2 separate regions of the Homo sapiens genome follow, and region 1 is linked to region 2. Evidence: fine-mapped expression QTL. A gene starts in region 2. The other region holds a variant in brackets. All regions are shown on one strand. Distances are between the middles of the regions.

Evidence for each region. PIP is the estimated chance that this variant, and not a neighbour inherited with it, causes the effect. A credible set is the group of variants that fine-mapping cannot tell apart.
Region 1: its variant is the best candidate, but not a certain one, in a credible set for the expression of PBXIP1 in whole blood (TOPMed, PIP 0.54).

The regions. Positions count from the first base shown.
Region 1 is chr1:154,842,759-154,848,121 of GRCh38, forward strand. The region is part of intron 1 of KCNN3 (potassium calcium-activated channel subfamily N member 3); the gene reads right to left. Among named protein-coding and RNA genes, the nearest start is that of KCNN3, 25 kb to the right of the region's middle. RefSeq lists enhancers at 2,647-2,706, 3,027-3,086. The variant T/C (reference allele first, on the strand shown) is at 2,186.
Region 2 is chr1:154,953,650-154,958,948 of GRCh38, forward strand. It overlaps PBXIP1 (PBX homeobox interacting protein 1), which reads right to left and starts at 2,450. Exons shown (of 11, transcript NM_020524.4): 1 at 2,420-2,450; 2 at 22-108. The coding sequence starts at 72. PYGO2 (pygopus family PHD finger 2) reads right to left here. Exons shown (of 3, transcript NM_138300.4): 3 at 3,377-5,299. The coding sequence ends at 5,130.

The sequences.
Region 1 (5,363 bases), 110 kb before region 2:
CATCTGTTTACACTGCTGTTACCATCAGGGCCTCAAGGGAAGAGTCCGGTTTGACTCAACAGAGGCAGCAAAGCATCACGGTCTGCAGAAGGGGCTTTGGAGTCCGAAGACCTCACTTAGAGCCCCACTTTGCCACTTCCTCGCCATGTGACCAAGCCTCAACTTACTCATCTATAAAATGGGGCAGTAAGAGTAGTGACCTCATAAAGTTGTCATACACATTACATGAGATGACACGTGTAAATAAGTGGCTTAGCGAAGGACCTGACACTTATAATAGGAGCTCAATAAATGACAGCTATGAGTGCCTTCATATCTCTGACACCTAGGGCCTAGCACAAGCCCAGCCCATAGACATAGATGCTGAAGAAGTATGTTGAAATAAGCTGAACCCCAGCCTGTTTGTAGCCTTGACGGTCTGCTTGGCCTCTCCAGGAGCTAGATATGGTCCCTGCCCCTCCCACCTCCCAACCAGGGCTGGCTCCCTGCATCCATCCACCCTGCAGAACAGTTCCCCTCCCCAGAACAAGAAGCTGCCCCATCCAGGTTCTAGACAAAAAAGCCAGCTGCCTGGCTCTCCACAGCTGGTTCCCAGCGTCCCTTCAGCTTGAGAGCCCACATCCCCGGGCTTCCAGGCAGCACCCACTGAGCTCAAGCCTCAAGTATCCTCAGTCCCAGCCTCAGCCCTCATCAAATATTTTTTTTAATAGAGATGGGGTCTGGCTATGTTGTCCTGGCCTCAAGCAAGTCTCCCACCTCGGCCTCCCAAAGTGCAGGGATTACAAGTGTGAGCCACTGCGCCCGGCCCCTCATCAAATCTGAAGTCCCAAGGTTAGCGAGTATGCAGGGAGGCTGGGAGAGAAAAGCAAGAGGCCCCTTACAGCAGAGGCTGAAACCTTTTAAAGCAACAGTGAGAAACGCTGAGAGAGAAACCAGGCGGGGTAGGTGGGGAGTTCTCTCCCGGAGACTCCTTCTCACCCTTGCTTCCCACAGAACCCAAGAAAAAGGCACTTGGCAATAGTTACAATTCCAGACGGCACTTAACGAAGTCCAATGCCTCAGCAAGACAGACGTTTGGAGAAATAATGACCCAGGGGACTTTCAGGGAAGGCTGTCTGGACATGGAGGGGCGGCTGTGAGATTTAATGAAGCCAGTTCTACACAAGAGTCCAGCACAGGGTGCGGTGCCCCTGCCTCGGTGACTGCCCCGAAAGTAGGAGGGGGGGCTGCACAGCCAGGCCACAAAGGGCAGACACCAGGCCAGCAGGGGAAGGCCAAAGAACACACCCTCGGGACCAGCAGGGGCTTGCAGAAGGGGACTCCACCCAAGGGAGCAAATGAATGTCCCCCGTTACACACAGATCTGGGCAGACGCCCTCACCCTCACTCCTTCCCCTCCCCAACCCTCCTCCAGCCCCTCCATTATGCAAATCAAGTGACTACACAGATTTGCATAATTCATGCATTATTAGTACGCGTTCTTGTCAGGCTTTTAGACTTTATAAAGCAATTTTGCTACCTTTAATGGAGAGTAAGAGACAAGGTTCTAGAGAGAGATTTTCTGTCCTTCTTTCATTAGACATGAAAACAGTCTCTAAATCTTAAGCCAGGGAGAGAGTCAGACAGAAATGAAGTGACTTAGAGTTGGAAACATGACCAAACACCTCGTTGACACTTGGTGTCAAAGGCCTGGGTGCCGGGCATCGCGCCGGTCACACATCCTGTCAGGCCTCTCAGGCACTCAGACCATGGAGTAGTCCCCAGTGGGGCAGACGTTATTATTGGGAAGTCACTCCAGGTTCCTGGGAGACTCAGTAACAACAAAACCCCCACTCTGGGTTTGTATCGCTTTTTTATATTTTACAAAGGGCTTTCGCTCTGCTATCTTACTCAGCGCCCACAATAAGGCTATCGGGTTGGAAGGGCCACATTTTTACCCTCATTTTAGACATGAGGAAACTAGGGGGCCAGTTGCAGTGGCTCATGCCTGTAATCCCAGCACTTTGGGAGGCTGAGGCGGGTGGATCACCTGAGGTCAGGAGTTCAAGACCAGCCTGACCAACATAGTGAAACCCCGCCTCTACTAAAAACACAAAAATTAGCTGGGCATGGTGGCGGGCACCTGTAGTCTCAGCTACTTGGGAAGCTGAGGTGGGAAGATGGCTTGAGCCCAGGAGGTGGAGGT[T/C]GCAGTGAACTGAAATTGTGCCACTGCCCTCCAGCCTAGGCAACACAGCCAGACCCCGTCTCAAAAAACAAAAAAAAGAGAGAGAAAAAAAACTGGGGCCACTCACCTAAGATCAAATCTAGGCTCTCTGTATTTTTTCCACTACACCAGGGATGGCAAACCCCTTGCCACTCTTCCATTTCCCCTGCCCAAGATAGACCTCATGAATCAATCAGGGCACTCTTCCCATTGAGCTCAGACAACACCTCAGAATCCTTCCCAACACAGCCCTCCTGGAAGCTGGTACCAATTGTTTCAACTTGACACCCAGATAAAACCTATTTGCTGTTCCTGCACTGTATCCTGCCAACTCCTCAGCATCCAGCCAACACTGTGACAGTGCCACCAGTTTCTGGGAAGTGCCTGTGGGCTAAGCTTAGCCTGGCTGCTCAGCCCCAGGAGCCCCAGACAGCCACCATCAGCCAGCTCACCGGCTCCAAATGGAACCAGATGCACCTGCATTTGGGAGCAGATCAGGGAGAGTGACTCCTACACCCCCGGGCCCAAGAGGTCTCTGCTTTTCTCACTGCGGGGGCCCCACTACCCAGGACCACTGAGGCCACCTTGACTAATGCACACCTGCTTCCCACACAGCAGGAGCCAAAGGTGTCTGCTTCTGCAACGGACGCAGCATTGCTGTGTGGCATGGGGCCCTGCAAGGGGTTCAGTCAGGGAAGGGGCCACATGACCAGACCACCCCCGCAAACACACACACACACTTCCCTAGGGCCGTGCCCCAGCCAGTCCCAAGGGCACACGTCCTTCCCTTGTACACATGCGGAGCCTCCTCCTCTAGACAGATCCTTCTGCATGGGCCCCTTCCACAACCCTGCAAGGAAACTTGTTTAGTAAATAATAGTAATAAAACCCTAAAAGTGCTCATTTTGATCCTCACGCACATGCTTGTTGTCCAGGCTAGAGAAATGTGAATCCTGCCTTCCCCAACGCCCTACCAGCCCCCAAGCCCATAGGGCAGCCCTGGCTCCTTTCCTACCCTTGTCAAGAGGCCAGTCCCCTTTGGAAGATGGCAAGCAGCCTGCCGGTCCAAAACAGTGGGGTGGCACAGCACCCACACCAGCCAACACCAGCTGGCAGCGGCTGCCCTGGCTGGGGGGCTTTCCTTCTGGAACCCATCAGCGCTGGCTTCCTGCCAGGCCCAAGGGAGATGAAGTACACCCTCTTCCTGACCACGTCTAAAGGGCCTAGACGATGCCTCTCCCAGCCAGAACCCACAGCAGTTACCTCCACTCTCTTGCCTTACCCTTACTTCACAGTGTGGCACCCTCCCCTTCCTGGTCTCCTGAGCCCCAAATCCATGCTGCTATTGCAATCATCAATGGGCTTATTCTCCAAATCATCGCTGGCTTCTTCTGCCAGGCCTTGCTGAGTTCCTTCCTGATATTTACAGCCCCCGAGGCTCCTTTCTGGAGGACGATTAGGCAGCAGCATACTGAGGGGGAGCCAGGAGCGTCTGCCCCCCGGGAGGAGGAGTGTTTTATCACTGACCTTGTTTAGAAGTGCCGGTACACAGCAATAACAAAAACCAGACTTTTTGTTGGCTTTATTTATTTTTCTATATCCTCTACAGACAGTGTACCCCTCATTGTCTGCACCGGGAGCCGATTGCTCCCCTGCCCCTTGGTACCCTACTGCCATTGGGTGTCTGCAGCCAGTTTCCATGGGGCTGGGTCAGATTTCAGATGAACGAGTGAAAGAATACACAAAATTGAGCAGAGAAAGCACTGGCTCCAGAAGCTCCACTTCTCGCTGTACTCCACAGTTGGGGTAATCAAGGCCTTTGGGGACTGCCCTCTAGGGATTTACTGTGCTTACTAGAGGAGGAATGAAGGTTTATTCAGCACTCTCAGGCCCTGGTGCTGTGTATCCATCTAGACCTATCACTATGTTGTGAGGTAGGCATTAGAGCGGCCCCCAAGGCCAACCTCCCATCACCACCACCCACACATGGATGTGACCAAAGCAGGCACCGGACTCGGAGTCTTCCTGCTAGTAAGCGGCAGAGCCAGGAGTTGAGCCGGCTCCGCCTGACCCCTCACCCCCCTCCCTGAGCCCTGGGCTCCTCCCAGGCCTGCCTCCCTGAATCCTGTCTGCCCCCTCCCCTGCCTGCCCTCACTTGTCCGCCAAGCATCTACCAGGGCCCCTGTGTGCCAGGCACGTGCTGCTGCTTTCACATCCCTCATCTCCTGGAACCCTCCTCACTACCCCCCCCTGCCCTCGGGGAGCCTGCACATCTCTCCAGGCCACACCGAGAGGGAAGGGGCAGAGCCAGCGTGAATATCAGGTCACTGGCCCCAGATCCAGGGCTCTTTCCTCTCTGGAGCCTGAGCTGGGCCGGCACCCAGCTGGATCCCTGGGCAGAGGCCCAGCCAGCCAATGGGAAATGCCATCACGGAGGAAGGCACCGAGGACCACGGGGAGTCACCAATGACACAAGCAAAGCCAGAGGCTGGGCTGGCCATGCTGACCCAAGACCCCGCTCTCCTGATGCCACACTGGGGTTGCCTGCAGGGAGGCTGGTGTCTTGAAAAGTTGACTCTGAGATAGATATTATAGTAAGGGTCATTTATGTGAACCACATGATTAGAAGTCCCTAGATTTCTTCTGAATATCCTAGGATTTTCCCCAGCCCCTCAAAGCCAACACGCCCAAGATAGAATTCACCATTCCAACTGCTTCCCAAGTCTTCAACTCCTTTAAAGGCAAGGAGGTCTTGCCTCTCCCCACCCATCAAGTCAAGTCCATCATCATATCTTGACAATTAAAAACAGAGGCCATTTATTGAGCTAAGAACATGACACCTGCGTAATTACACCTGTGTGATGCCCTTACAGCCACCCGTGGGCCAAGCATCATAATGCCCACTTTACAAACACAGACACTGAAGTTCAGGGAGACCAGGCAACTTGCCCAACTGCACAGCCAGTCACTCCCCCAGCTCCGACACGAACCCGAGAGTAGCCGGCTCCAGCACGCTGCTGCTGTCCTCCATACCTACTCCTCCCAAATCTCTGAAAACGAGCAGGAAGAGGGTGTATTCCACCTCCTTTGGGCCTGGCCAGAAGCCAGCGCTGATGAGTTCCAGAAGGAGGCCTCCCCCCCTCCCCAGCCAGAGTGGCTG
Region 2 (5,299 bases):
TCCCAGGCCCGCTCTTCCTACCTCGGAGCCAGCAAGCACCCAGCTATTATCAGAGTCTGGGCAGGAGGCCATAGTTGCTGAGGTCCCTGAGGCTGCTGTGGCTGCCACCTGCAGAAGAAAGCTCTCTTAAGGATGGGAGCTCCCTTCAGGAGGGGCAGAATGCAGAAAGCAGCCTTGGCTGGGTTCCAAGGTTCAAGTGCTGGGCAGCAGCCTCCAGAACCAAGCCTGGTTCCAGTCCTTCTCTCCCTGACACCCCAGCTCTTCTAAGCAGTATTTGCCTTGCAAATCAGAATCTGCCAACACCCACAGAGAAGCCAGCCTCTTCCAGGGACCAACAGGGCCTTGGAAAACTGAACTGACCTTGAAAGGTCAAAGTAGCATAGGCTGGAAAGGCTCTGGGGAATTCCAGTCCAGCCCCCTGACATTTGAGTCAGGGAAGATGAAGCCCAGCAAGGTTGACAGACTCAACTTGCCAATAAGAAGACTTGTTAATAAGAAGAGCAGGGAAACAACACAGCCCTCCCTTCACAACACCAGGTACCTACACAATCACTACCTTCTCCCCCAGGACCTGGAAGGGAAGACTCAATGGCCTCCTTCAGCCCTAAGTGTCCCACCACTTGCCCAGCATAAGTCCTTGGTATGGTCTAGTTCAGTGGTTCTCAATCTTGGCTGCACATTGGAATCACCTAAGATTTTGATTCAATTGAGTTGGGGGGTAGGCCCGGCTGTGGGTCTTTTAAAAAACCACTCAAATGATTCTCATGCGCAGCCAGGGTTAAGAGCCACTGGCATAGCTTAGATCCACCTGGATGCACCTTTTATAAGTCTCCTCATCACTCTCAGTCTTCATCCTAAATTCTGTTTACCTTCTTAGTAATCGCCAGAGTTTGGTCTTAGGGAACTTGAAGGTGACTGGGAAAATGGATTTATGGCAACTATCATGTATATATACATCACTTTATAGCTTGCAAAAAATAGACAAAAATCAGGGCTATGGTCCTGCACCCGGTTAATCTGCTCTGACTTGACAGGGATAGGGGAGGGAATCACTCCAGTTTCCAAAGCCTGACTGACACAAAGCAGGGTAAGAAGAGAGGGATCCGCCCCTTCATCCAAGGCTAAAACAGTTCCCTCAGGCAGCTCCTGTTGGGACCAGGCATAAAGGTGGAAGGATAGATGAGCTGACCTCTCAAGAGTACTGGATTGTGATCCCTCAGAACAGGATAAATGACTGCTTCCCGAGCACTTTATAAGAAAACTCAGGAAAAGGGAAGTGAGGCTGGGAGAGTATGGCAGTTCTACCTTTGAAACCAACCACATTATCCCCTTCTGTTTGAGCTGTTTTCAAGTCCTGCGTGGTGCCCTAAGTAACCTCCTGTGGCTCCTGCCAGTCAAGATCCAAGTCCTGGATAGGTCTTTCCCAATGCCCATCCTCCCAGACACATGCACCCATTCCACACGGAGACAGGAGAATGGCTGCAATGACCTCCCTGTACCAAATCCAACAGGACACCCTGGCATGCATCTGTAAGTATCCATAGAGCCATGGCTGTTCAGCCTTCCGCTTGTGGCTCCACCCCCGCCCTTGTTATCATCTCCCCATCCCCAGTTGCTGACTGTTAACAGGTGGTGGCAGGAAGGAAGTGGCAGCAGCTTGGGCTGAAGTCCCTGTTTATCCCTAGCTGTGTGTGCAGCCTGCTCAGGTCCTCTAGAACCAGGCACCATGGCAACCACAGTGATGTCAGACCCACTGTCTCCATGGAAACCAGCAAAGGTATTTGGGTCAACAAAACAAATACTTATGAGACCCAAATAGGAGACACTCTGAAACTCCTATACTCTGGGTTCCAAACCCTGATACCTCTTTCTTGGTTAGGTTAACCCAGGGTTCAAAAAAACACCTCTTCTCCCAAGCCAGCATCTCACTGCCTTATTAGGAAGTTCCTTCTGCTGTCTAATCTCCACCCTTCCCTGCTGTGTTTCCAGATCTTTTTCTTTTCATCGACCTTCTGGAAGAAAACCCACCTCCACTCCCTCCCTCCACCCCCTTCTTTTCATTCAGGCAGGATTCAACAAACACCTCCTGTAAGGATTATGACAGAGACTTCTGCTATTTCTAAAAAACAGCTAAAGGGGGAGCTCTCCCACTCAGCATAAAGCTAGGAAGTCTCGCCTCTAGTTAATTTAAACTCCTCTAACAGTTGCTCCTCCAAACCGCTAAAGCAAAGGATCTAGGGCCACTTGCCTGGGGTACCCAGAGCAAGTTCCTGTTGTGTTAGCGTCGGCACCTGGCCTTCCTCCCCCAGCCCAGAAATGAAAAGCAGCTCATTCCTTCTAGATTAGTTCCGCCTTCCCTTTTCCTTATTCCACCCCCTTCAAAGCGAATCTGTGGACCCCTTCCCAGCTAAGGCATTACCTGAACCAGCTCTTGCTTCGGTCTTCAGCTTAACTTGTTGCAGGCTTCCCTTTGTTTGCAGCCCGAGAAGAAAATCATGTGACCAGAAACTGACCAATGAAAAGTCAACTTCCCCAAGGGGGCGGAAACTTTTGGCCAATAAGAGCAGGAATTGAGAGCCAGGGGAGGGGAAGGGAGGTCTAGCGACACGGCCCTAAACCTGGGCTTACCTCCTGGTGGGCGACCGGGGTCCCAGCTAACCGAATCCTGAGTTTCCTGCCCTTCTTTCCCAGTGTCTAAACAGTTTCTAGAGGGAACCCCCACAAACTGAGAGAAAAGCAGACGGTGCCGTCTTCTGAGATGACGAAGACAAGGGGCCAGGTTGGCCCCAGGATAGACAGAGACAGCTGTGAGATGGGGGAAGGGAGAGGGACAGGTCGCAAATCCAGGGTGTGGAAATAGCCCTCCTGCCATTCTCCCCAATCTGCTCCAAAACAGACTGCTTAAAAGATGCCATTGCTACTTTAAAAAACGGTTGGGGGACGGGAACGATCTGAAAAACATCCCAAAATGAAATTTGCTAGGACAGAAGCAGCCCCTCCCCTCACCCTTAGAGCGACACTTGCTCCCTAACCCAAACAACTGGGAGGTGGGTGGGGTGCTAAACCCAGAAGAGCTCAAGCACTTGTCTTCCAGAGGCTGTGGTGCCAAATCCGCCTGGCTCCAGGCCTGGCCCAGGAATATGCTCAAAAAGGAAACTCAGTTTCTCACAGTGGAGACACAGGGGGATGGGCGGGGAAACACAGGCCTCCCTTGGCTCAGCAGCTTATACCAGGGTCAGCTCAGGGGCCAAATCTGCCATTCCCACTCCCAGGGACCCTGGGGAGCATACATATCCTCAACCCCTAAGCACCCTACCCAGCAGTGACAGCGGCTCATTCCAGCCTTTTCACACAGCAACAGCAAGGAGTCCTTGTCTGGGATTTTAAAATCATTTTATTAATCCAACAGTACAAAAGACCCCCACCACCACCGCATTCTGCCATCACTTTGTTCCAAAAAGTAGTGGAGTGAGAGAGCGAGAGGGAGCAGATCCAGCAAAAACACTCCCCCAGGGGCCATTTTACAAAATGCGGAGCAGGGGAAGACAACACAAAAACAGCAACAGATAAATGGGGCAAACAGAACAACAAACACAAGAGTTGAGCAGCGGGGTGGGGGTGGGGGGTTGCCATCTACGCCGTTTTAGTGTGAGGGACACTGGGAACGATGCCCAGAGGCTGCTCTCCTCCCAGCCTCAAAGGTTGTCAGCTCCACCAGAGCAGGGTCTTCTCTCCTCATGCCAGGAACTGAGAGAAGTGGGGGTAGGGGACCACTAGGTCTTTGCCACTGTATCTTGAGCTGGGGGACTCCTAACTTCTCCGAGGGCCACACCCCATGCCTGCCTTCCCCACCCCATGGAGGAATGTGTGCATGAACAGAAAAGGAGAACGAGCAGCGCTAAGGTCCTCATCAGGCCCCAGGCCCATCTCTGGCAGGCAGTGCTTAAAAAATAAAAAAAGACAAATAAAGCCCAGTGCAGGCCTTTGGCTGAGAGGAATGAGAATTGCTAATTAATCACCAGGCCCAAGAGGATATGAAAGAATAGCAAAGAGAAGCAACAAACTCCAGGCTCTTCTACCTTTGAGTACCATGGCAATGAGGATCCCGCCGCATCCCCTACCCACAGGCTGTGACAGGGCCTCACTTGGATCCTTTTATCATGGAGGAAATGAGGTATAGGGCTCTGCGCCTTTTCAAGCTTTCCTTCAATCAAGCCAGGAAGGCAGGGGAATAAGGGCGCCGAAAGTTGAAGAACACACGGAGTATAATGTGCAACAGATGGGCTGGGGGAGGAGGGTACCACCAAAGTCCAGACTTTCAGGACAGCCCAAACTTCAAATATTCTGGTCTGTCAGATAACATATCCCAATTTTTGGCAAAAATATGGTCATTAGGAGAAAAGCACGAGAGAGGCTGAGAAAGGACCAGTGACTTTGGTATGAAGAAGATACGTCCTGACAGCATCTCTCACCTACTGTCTTGAAGCCCCAAATCACCAAGAAACTGCCATAACCAGGAACTCTCCTGCTTCCTCAGGCTATTTGGTTCTCTGAGGGGGAAGGAGTTGGGTAAGTCTTGGAGGAAGCAAAGGAGTGGGTAGAAAAAGGGGAAAATCCCCATTTATTCCCTAAAGCTGTCTCCCAGAGCCCATAAAAGGGCTATTGCAGGGATGGCAAGACCCCAATTCCTCTGGCCAGAAACCTTTAACACTTGACTCCAAAAACTAAGGCTGGAGCTGTGGGGTTCAGTAGGGGTGTTAGGCACAGGTGTTAGGGGCATCCATCATCAGCAGAGGGAACACCCCTGCCCTCCGGATCTTCCTCCAGCCCCTTTTCTCTTGCAGCCACACTCCTGGGCCTCCAGAAATAGCCACAAAATGGCTCTGCTCAGCAGGGCTTTGGTTTCCTGGATCTCTGTAGATCTCAACATGTAAGTTTCCCAAAACAGTGAGCAATCCAGGCTCTTCTGCCTGCCCACCTCAATTCCTTTTCTGCTCCCAGGAGCCACTGTTTCTGCCCCATGGGGATGGAAAGCCAGTGGAAACAAGGACCAAGAGCCAAACATCAAAAAAATCACCCTGGAAGAGCAGGGAGAGACATGTGCACTTCCCTGGGCCACTTCACCAGCGTCACCCATCGTTAGCAGCCACCAGCTGCCCCATGCCCTCACGGATGTAGACAGACTGGATCTCCTTGGTCTTGAGGCAGAGATCGCAGGCCCAGACGGCAGAAGCTTCAGTGGTCAGCAGCCCATAGGCGCTCTCAGTCATGCCTGTGCACTCACGGTGGAACCATTTCT